Regions from separate parts of the Homo sapiens genome. Here region 1 is linked to region 2. Evidence: fine-mapped expression QTL. A gene starts in region 2. The other region holds a variant in brackets. All regions are shown on one strand. Distances are from middle to middle.

Region 1 (5,242 bases), 51 kb before region 2:
GTATACCTATTTTTTAAGTGTATACTTGTTTTTTAAAAACAGTGTTTGCCTGCCTTGTTTGAAGACACGAAAAAATGTACACAAAATGATTTAGAACTGTTGAACTTTTCAGAAAATAATTTAAAATCATCTACCTCATAACTAAAGGTATGTTTTTTTAAAATTACAAATCAATTTCAGCAAGTTTTAAAGTTGATAATATCTCATCCTGTTTTGGGTATACCATGTACAGTAATTAGTACTGTACTTAATTAAAACGATCAGTAATTCTTATCATTTTAAAGAGGGCAAACTGAAGTGATCTTTTTTCAGTGGCAAGAAAACCCCCAACTCTCAGCATAGCCACATTAACCTTCTTTTCGTTCCACAAATTAGCCAAGCTCATTTCATTCCTCAAGTCTCTGCACTTACTGTTTCTTCTTTTTGCTACATTCTTCCCAGAAATACTTGCTTTTCGTCTTTTGTATTTCATTCAGGTCAAATGTCAAATGTTCCTATTTCAGAAAATGTGTCCCCCCCTACCCCTCACCAACTCACCCAGTTATGCAGACCAAAAACCTGGAAGGTTATTTACCAATTTTCCCAGTCCCCCCATATGTCATGTATCAGTCTGTCCTGTTGATTCTGTGTCTCAGTTCCATCTGGAATCTGACCATGTCCTGTCATTTCTATTGCTAAAACTCTAGTCTAAGCCACCATGCTCTTTCATCTGTATTAGCACAACAACCCTTTCTCATTGCAACTTAGCTGGCCATACCTACTGCAGAAACTGGTACCTTGAAAGGGGATGTTGCTAGGATACAAACTTAATATGTTTATTTCTTTTGAGAACTGCCAGACTGTCCCAAAGTGCCTGAACCATTCTCTATTCCAACCAGCAATATATGAGGACTCTAGTTTCTCCACATCTTCACCAACACTTGTTATTTTCCTTTTTGGTTAATAGCTATCCTAGTGGGTGTGAAGGGGTACCTCATTGTGGTTTTGATTTGTATTTCCTTAATGACTAATGATGTTGAGCATCTTTTCAAGTGCTTGTTGGCTGCTTGTATAGCTTATTTGAAGAAGTGTTTCTTCAAGTCATTTGCCATTTAAAAAATTGGGTGTTTTTTTTTTTTGCTGTTGAATTGTAAGAGTTCTGTATGTATTTTGGATACTAGACCCTTATCAAATCATAATTTGCAAATATTTTCTCCCATTCTGTGGGTTGTCTTTTCACTTTCTTGACAATGTCCTTTGATGCACAAAAGTTTTTATTTTTTATTAAGTCCATTTATTCATCTTCTTTTTTGCTTGTGCTTTTAGTATCACATCTAAGAATCATTGTTAAATCCAAGATTCCTATGTTTTATTCTAAGAATTGGAAAATGGAGACTCAAAGAAATACATGTACACACATGATCATAGCAGCACTATTAACAATACTCAAAGGGTAAAAACAGCCCAATTGTCCATCAATGAATGGATGAATAAAATGTCGTTATGCATACAATGGAATTTTATTCAATCATAAAAATAATGTTTTACCGATGTGTGCTACAACATGAAAAACCTTGAAAACATTCTGCTAAGTAAAGGAAGCCAGACACAAAAGTATGGCATAATTCCATTTACATGAAATGTTCAGAATGAGTAAATCCATAGAGATAGAATTCAGATTGATGGTTACCAAGGGCTGGGAGAAAGGAGAATAGGACAATTGCTTAATGGGTATAGGGTTTCCTTTTGGGGTGATGAAATGTTTTAGAATTAGATAGAAGTGGTGGTTGCACAATATTCTCAATGTACTAAATGCCACTGAATTGTTCACTGTAAGATGGCTAATTTTACATTACGTGAGTTTCACTTGAAAAAAGCAAATTGCAAAGAACAAAGTAGAATCGCTCCATTTCCTCTCTGAAAGGTAATACATTTAATATATTTTTATTTCTGCTTTTTCTATATTTCTTTTCAATTTTTTATATATTAGAATTTTAGATACACAGTATTTTTTTATAGTATATGTCTTCTATTTTAAGACTTATTGTTGATATTTGCATTATGCTTAATATTCACATTAACAATAATTATTTAGACTTATTTGTAGTTTTCTGATTTCATTGTTCATCTTTGATGAAAATACTACGCCTTCCTCATTCTTGAATATGTTATAGTATTTCTTTGAACAATTTTTTTTGTTTCTTTTGTTTTGTTTTGTTTCTTTGAGACAGAGTCTCACTCTGTTACCCAGGCTGGAGTGCAATGGCACGATCTTGGCTCACTGAAACTTCTGCCTTCCCGGTTCAACCGATTCTCCTGCCTCAGTCTCCCAAGTAGTTGGTATTATAGGCACGCACAACCATAACCGGCTAATTTTTATTTTTAGTAGAGATGGGGTTTCGCTGTGTTGGCCAGGCTGGTCTCGAACTCCTGGCCTCAAGTGATCCACTCATGTTGGCCTCCCAAAGTGCTGAGATTAGATTACAGGTGTGAGTCACCATGCTTGGCCCTTTGAGCAATGTTTGAAAGAAGAGTATATATGTGAAACTCTACTTGAAGACTTTAATTTCTGAGGATGACTTTCACTTGCTTTCACTTGACTGTTTCATTAGATGTAAAACTCTTAGGACACCCAGAAAGATGGAGTGGATGTACTTTTCCCTATTCTTCATGTCAGAAAGCCAAAATCAAACAAACACAAACCTAAAATATCAAGAGACAGAATACTTTAATGAAGTATTTTAAAAAATAAAAATTATGCTAAAATCTATGATAGACAAAATATAAAAATTTGAAATAGAGTTTGACAAGGCAAGATTAGGGTGGGGTGAGTCATACAGGTGCAACATCAGATCTCCCCAATTTAAAATTTTAGTATTTCATCCAGCATGAATTATAATTCATTACATTTCATTTAATTCTTATTTTTAAAAATTGCAGTAAATATTGTTTCTCCTGATTACTGAATTTTTGGGTGTTCATTAAAATTTTGCACCTCAGGACTTCATTCACCTTACTTTAATCCTGCTTAGAGCACATTTTTTATCCTCAAAACTC[T/C]CTAGGTTTTGCTCTGATGTAGTGGCTGTCAAATTTGGCTTCACACTAGAATTTAAATGTTATTCGATAAATTTAATATCCACACTCTTTCCTCAGACAAGTTAAGCCAGACTCACCATTAGTGAAGCAAGATTTTAAAAATCTTTCTAGGAGATTCTAATTTGCAGTTGGGGTTGTAAACTACAACCTTATTTTTTTATTCCTATAGAGTTCAGTGATAAGGAATATTGATCATCTAGTCAGAATGCATCAGTTCAGCTCTTGGCTTTGCGTCCTTGAGTAAGTTATTTAGCATTTCTGATACTTAAATTCCCATCTCATGGCATGGTCCTGAAGATTCAAGGAAAAATCACATGCAAACCCTAAGCACTGTGCCTGGATCTTAGCAACCATAAATGCTTGCCATTAAGATATTGCTGGTGCTGGCCGGGTGCGGTGGCTCAAGCCTGTAATCCCAGCACTTTGGGAGGCTGAGGCGGGCAGATCATTTGAGGTCAAGAGTTCAAGATGAGCCTGAGCAACATGGTGAAACTCCGTCTCTACTAAAAATACAAAATAATTAGCTGGGTGTGGTGGCACATGCCTTTAGTCCCAGCTACACGGGAGGCTAAAGCAGGAGAATTGCCTGAACCAAGGAGACAGAGGTTGCAGTGAGGTGAGAACGCGCCACTGCACTCAGCCTGGGAGACAGAACGAGACTCCATTCAAAAAAAAAAAGAAAGATATTCTGGTGCTGAAGATGGAAACAGGAAAAAGCAATAGCTACGATTTAGTATTGTAGAGGAGAATCTTTTGCCAGTATGAAATCTTTTGCTATATCCTCTCAAAAATATGTTTCCAAAGGATTTGTCTCCATGTCTGTCTTTATTTATTTTGCCTCATATTCAGTGAGCCTATTTGCTTTAACAACACAAATGCTTTAGTTCAAATTTGTCCAACCTGCAGCCCACAGGACAGCTTCAAATGCAGCCCAACATAAATGATTTTTTGGCCCTTTTTTTTTTTTTTAGTTTATCAGCTATCATTAGTATTAGTGTATTTTATGTATGGCCCAAGACAATTCTTCTTCCAGTATGGTCCAGGGAAGCCAAAAGATTGGACACCCCTGCTTTTAGTTCAATACATTTTTTTTCTATTATAACTTTGATTACTTTCTCACTCTCTGTTTTGTTTTCTCCTTTTGGTAATATATATAGCTCTCTTTCTCACTAACTCTATAATCTTTTTTCTTCAATTTCTTGGAGAAGTTTTTAATTTTGTGTTTTTGATGTAAAAACACATATGCACAGTTTTACAAGTCAAAAGCTAAAAGCTTTTGAAAAAAATGGCAGATTCTCATATATTACTTGTATTTATTCTCTTCAGAAGTCACTTTAAAGTATTATCTTTTCTTCTGGCATTACCTTTTTAAATAGCATGTTTTAAAATAGAAATTTTCATGGTTTTTATTTATTTTTTGAATATGTAACACATTAACTTTGTTCAAAAGTTAAATAAATACAAATTTCTAGATTCTTCATATTGACCTTAGTAATAATTTCCTGAATATGACACCAAAAGCACAGGCAACAAAAGCAAAAATAAATAAATGGGACTACATCAACCTAAAAAGCTGCTGCACAGCAAAGGAAACAACAGAATGAAGAGGCAACCTGTGGAATGGGAGAAAATATTTGCAAATCATACATCTGATTAAAAGTTAATATTTAAAATATATGAGTTAGTTCTACAACTCAATAGCAGAAAAACAATCTGACTTTTAAAATGGGCAGAAGACCCAAATAGACACTTTGTAAAAAAACATAAATAATCTTAAACAAATATATAAAAAAGTACTCAATATTATTAATTATAAGGGAAATGCAAATTAAAACCACAATGAAGTAATACCTCACACCTTTTGGATGGCTATTATCAAAAAAATAGGGAAAAGGAAACTCTTGTACACCTTTTTCTGGAACTATAAATTGATATAGCCACAGTGGAAAACAGAGCAGTTCCTCAAAAACTTAAAAAAAGAACTACCAGATGATCCAGCAATCCCTCTTCTTGGTATATACCCTGCAAAACTGAAACCAAATTCTCCAAGAGCTGTCTGCACACTCATATTCATTATGGTATTATTTACAATAGCAAAGACACAGAAACAACTTAAATGTCCATGAACAGATAAATAGACAAAGAAAATGTGATACATACATACAAT
Region 2 (5,242 bases):
TTATCAAGCGAGTCATCACTGTAGGCAACAGGAGCTTAATCCTTATGAGAAACTCTGGGAAACAGCCTATAACACAACTCTCAGGGTTTCCACACCAGAAGGATGAGGAAGCTGGGGAACTTAAACATTAACACTGTGATGGTTAATGTTACATGTCAACTTGACTAGACTATGGTGCCCACATGTTTGGTTAAACACCAGTCTAGATATTGCTGTGCAGGTATATTTTTAGATATGACTAATGTTTAAATCACTAGATTTTGAATACAGCAGATTACCCTCCATAATGTCACTGGGCTTTACCCAGTGAGTTGCTAAGGACTTAAGAGAAATTGACTGCCTGCAGACTGCTTCCAGGCTCAAGCTGAAATGTCAGCTCTATCCTGGATCTCCAGCCTGCCCCACAGATTTCGGATTTGTGAAATCCTGTGAACCAACTTACTAAAATATCTCTTCTCTCTGTCTGTCTCTGTCTTCACATACACACACACACACACACACACACAGCCTTTTGGTTTGGCTTCTCTGGATAGCCCTGACTAATACAAATACCCTTGGTTGAGGGCTCCCTCAGGCTAAGGGGTGCAGGTGCTGACAATAGAAAGTGTGGAGGCTTGCAGTGAAATGAGAGGAGGGAATAGTGGCAGGCCACCAATAGTGGCTGTTATACTTTGCCTACCACTGCTGAAGACCAAAAGGGATGAGCCAAAACAATCAGCGGCTAGGGACAGTGGCTTCCAGGGAGTCAGTGGTGGAGTCTATTTATGCAGGAGTCTTATGTCAATAGCAGTGTCTTGGTCTGACCAGGCCTCTTACAAAGTGATTGGGTCCTTGGACTCCCAGAGCAGCCTCATTCTCACCTATTCCTTAATTTCTATTTGCTAGTTTCCTATCAGTTCTATGAGCTATCAGTTGCCTTCCAATGAATTCCAGTCTTTAAAACTAATGACCAGAAACTATGGTTGTTCATTGCAGTAGGGAACTTTGGTATTTATGCTTTTCTAAAACATTTTGATCATTCATTACTGCTCCTAGCTCATATTTAACGCATTCACTTTCGATTTTTAGAGTCTGAATGTTTTAGCCTAGATTATCTTATTTAGGCATAAATCGTTATGTTTAGTAATTTTTTTGAGATATAGGACAGAAACAGATACTAATGTACATTTTATCAGGAAGTGGCAACACTTTAAACCATGGCAGTAAACATGGCAGTGTGTTCGTTTGTTCACTCAATTACAATTTGTTAAAGCATTACTACAGTAATGAGTATTTGGAATATGACAGCGAATTACACCAAGTCCTTGTCCTTACAAAGTTTAGTTTAGAGTGGAAAAAGATTTAAAAAATGATGAAAACAATAACAACAACAAAAACCACAGCATTCTACCATCAGGGAAGAGAGCATAATTTTAAAGGGTTGAATGAAACATTAATTAAACAAATGAGGTATTTCAGCAGAGATGAATAGCATTTTTTACAGTCTCAATTGAGACACTAGAAATTAAAAAACAAATCAGAGTTTTTTGTAAAAAAAGTTTTTTTCTAGGGCCCATGCACAGACTGTACGTTGCCAAGAGGGCAAACATCAGTAAATTTGAAAATAGTTTGAGAGAAATTATTCAAACTGAAACAAACCCAGGAAAAAAGAACTTTATAAACATGAAAGACGAAGAAACGAAGAGGAAAGGAAGAGGAAAAAGAAAAAGGATACGAAGTGCAAGTATACTTCAGGATCAAACTGCTGAAAATCAAAGATAAAAAGGAAATATTAAAGGTAGCCAGAGAAACGCAACAGGAAGAAAGAAAAGAATTACCATAGAGGGAACGGAGGAGCCAAGATGGCCGAATAAGCTCCGGTCTACAGCTCCCAGCGTGAGCGACGCAGAAGACGGGTGATTTCTGCATTTCCATCTGAGGTACCGGGTTCATCTCACTAGGGAGTGCCAGACAGTGGGCGCAGGTCAGTGGGTGCGCGCACCGTGCGCGAGCTGAAGCAGGGCGAGGCATTGCCTCACTCGGGAAGAGCAAGGGGTCAGGGAGTTCCCTTTCCTAGTCAGAGAAAGGGGTGACAGACAACACCTGGAAAATCAGGCCACTCCCACCCGAATACTGCGCTTTTCCGACTGGCTTAAAAAACGGCGCACCACGAGATTATATCCGGCACCTGGCTCGGAGGGTCCTACAACCACGGAGTCTCGCTGATTGCTAGCACAGCAGTCTGAGATCAAACTGCAAGACAGCAGCGAGGCTGGGGGAGGGGCGCCCGCCATTGCCCAGGCTTGCTTAGGTAAACAAAGCAGCCGGGAAGCTCGAACTGGGTGGAGCCCACCACAGCTCAAGGAGGCCTGCCTGCCTCTGTAGGCTCCACCTCTGGGGGCAGGGCACAGACAAACAAAAAGACAGCAGTAACCTCTGCAGACTTAAATGTCCCTGTCTGACAGCTTTGAAGAGAGCAGTGGTCCTCCCAGCACGCAGCTGGAGATCTGAGAAGGGGCAGACTGCCTCCTCAAGTGGGTGCCTGACCCCTGACCCCCGAGCAGCCTAACTGGGAGGCACCCCCCAACAGGGGCACACTGACACCTCACATGGCAGGGTACTCCCACAGACCCGCAGCTGAGGGTACTGTCTGTTAGAAGGAAAACTAACAAACAGAAAAGACATCCACACCAAAAACCCATCTGTACATCACCATCATCAAAGACCAAAAGTAGATAAAACCACAAAGATGGGGAAAAAACAGAACAGAAAAACTGGAAACTCTAAAAAGCAGAGCACCTCTCCTCCTCCAAAGGAACGCAGTTCCTCACCAGCAATGGAACAAAGCTGGACGGAGAATGACTTTGACGAGCTGAGAGAAGAAGGCTTCAGACGATCAAATTACTCTGAGCTACGGGAGGACATTCAAACCAAAGGCAAAGAAGTTGAAAACTTTGAAAAAAATTTAGAAGAATGTATAACTAGAATAACCAATACAGAGAAGTGCTTAAAGGAGCTGATGGAGCTGAAAACCAAGGCTCGAGAACTACGTGAAGAATGCAGAAGCCTCAGGAGCCGATACGATCAACTGGAAGAAAGGGTATCAGCGATGGGAGATGAAATGAATGAAATGAAGCAAGAAGGGAAGTTTAGAGAAAAAAGAATGAAAAGAAATGAGCAAAGCCTCCAAGAAATATGGGACTATGTGAAAAGACCAAATCTACGTCTGATTGGTGTACCTGAAAGTGATGGGGAGAATGGAACCAAGTTGGAAAACACTCTGCAGGATATTATCCAGGAGAACTTCCCCAATCTAGCAAGGCAGGCCAACGTTCAGATTCAGGAAATACAGAGAACGCCACAAAGATACTCCTCTAGAAGAGCAACTCCAAGACACATAATTGTCAGATTCACCAAAGTTGAAATGAAGGAAAAAATGTTAAGGGCAGCCAGAGAGAAAGGTCGGGTTACCCTCAAAGGGAAGCCCATCAGACTAACAGCGGATCTTTCGCCAGAAACCCTACAAGCCAGAAGAGAGTGGGGGCCGATATTCAACATTCTTAAAGAAAACAATTTTCAACCCAGAATTTCATATCCAGCCAAACTAAGCTTCATAAGAGAAGGAGAAATAAAATACTTTACAGACAAGCAAATGCTGAGAGATTTTGTCACCACCAGGCCTGCCCTAAAAGAGCTCCTGAAGGAAGCGCTAAACATGGAAAGGAACAACCGGTACCAGCTGCTGCAAAATCATGCCAAAATGTAAAGACCATCGAGACTAGGAAGAAACTGCATCAACTAACGAGCAAAATAACCAGCTAACATCATAATGACAGAATCAAATTCACACATAACAATATTAACTTTAAATGTAAATGGACTAAATGCTCCAATTAAAAGACACAGACTGGCAAATTGGATAAAGAGTCAAAACCCATCAGTGTGCTGTATTCAGGAAACCCATCTCACGTGCAGAGACACACATAGGCTCAAAATAAAAGGGTGGAGGAAAATCTACCAAGCAAATGGAAAACAAAAAAAGGCAGGGGTTGCAATCCTAGTCTCTGATAAAACAGACTTTAAACCAACAAAGATCAAAAGAGACAAAGAAGGCCATTACATAATGGTAAAGGGATCAATTCAACAAGAAGAGCTAACTATACTAAATATATATGCACCCAACACAGGAGCACCCAGATTCATAAAGCAAGTCCTGAGTGACCTACAAAGAGACTTAGACTCCCACACATTAATAATGGGAGACTTTAACACCCCACTGTCAACATTAGACAGATCAACGAGACAGAAAGTCAACAAGGATACCCAGGAATTGCACTCAGCCCTGCACCAAGCTGTCCTAATAGACATCTACAGAACTCTCCACCCCAAATCAACAGAATATACATTTTTTTCAGCACCACACCGCACCTATTCCAAAATTGACCACATACTTGGAAGTAAAGCTCTCCTCAGCAAATGTAAAAGAACAGAAATTATAACAAACTATCTCTCAGACCACAGTGCAATCAAACTAGAACTCAGGATTAAGAATCTCACTCAAAACTGCTCAACTACATGGAAACTGAACAACCTGCTCCTGAATGACTACTGGGTACATAACGAAATGAAGGCAGAAATAAATATGTTCTTTGAAACCAATGAGAACAAAGACACAACATACCAGAATCTCTGGGACACATTCAAAGCAGTGTGTAGAGGGAAATTTATAGCACTAAATGCCCACAAGAGAAAGCAGGAAAGATCCAAAATTGACACCCTAACGTCACAATTAAAAGAACTAGAAAAGCAAGAGCAAACACATTCAAAAGCTAGCAGAAGGCAAGAAATAACTAAAATCAGAGCAGAACTGAAGGAAATAGAGATACAAAAAACCCTTCAAAAAATTAATGAATCCAGGAGCTGGTTTTTTGAAAGGATCAACAAAATAGATACACCGCTAGCAAGACTAATAAAGAAAAAAAGAGAGAAGAATCAAATAGACGCAATAAAAAATGATAAAGGGGATATCACCACCGATCCCACAGAAATACAAACTACCATCAGAGAATACTACAAGCACCTCTACGCAAATAAACTAGAAAATCTAGAAGAAATGGATAAATTCCTCGACACATACACTCTCCCAAGACTAAACCAGAAAGAAGTTGAATCTCTGAATAGACCAATAACAGGATCTGAAATTGTGGCAATAATCAATAGCTTACCAACCAAAAAGAGTCCAGGACCAGATGGATTCACAGCT

What was found. PIP is the estimated chance that this variant, and not a neighbour inherited with it, causes the effect.
Region 1: its variant is the best candidate, but not a certain one, in a credible set for the expression of LINC02893 in unexposed skin (GTEx, PIP 0.53).

The regions. Positions count from the first base shown.
Region 1 is chr9:86,988,760-86,994,001 of GRCh38, forward strand. GAS1RR (GAS1 adjacent regulatory RNA) reads left to right here. Exons shown (of 7, transcript NR_049794.1): 5 at 43-147. Among named protein-coding and RNA genes, the nearest start is that of GAS1RR, 43 kb to the left of the region's middle. The variant T/C (reference allele first, on the strand shown) is at 3,037.
Region 2 is chr9:87,040,054-87,045,295 of GRCh38, forward strand. LINC02893 (long intergenic non-protein coding RNA 2893) reads right to left here and starts at 2,073. Exons shown (of 2, transcript NR_027471.1): 1 at 1,818-2,073.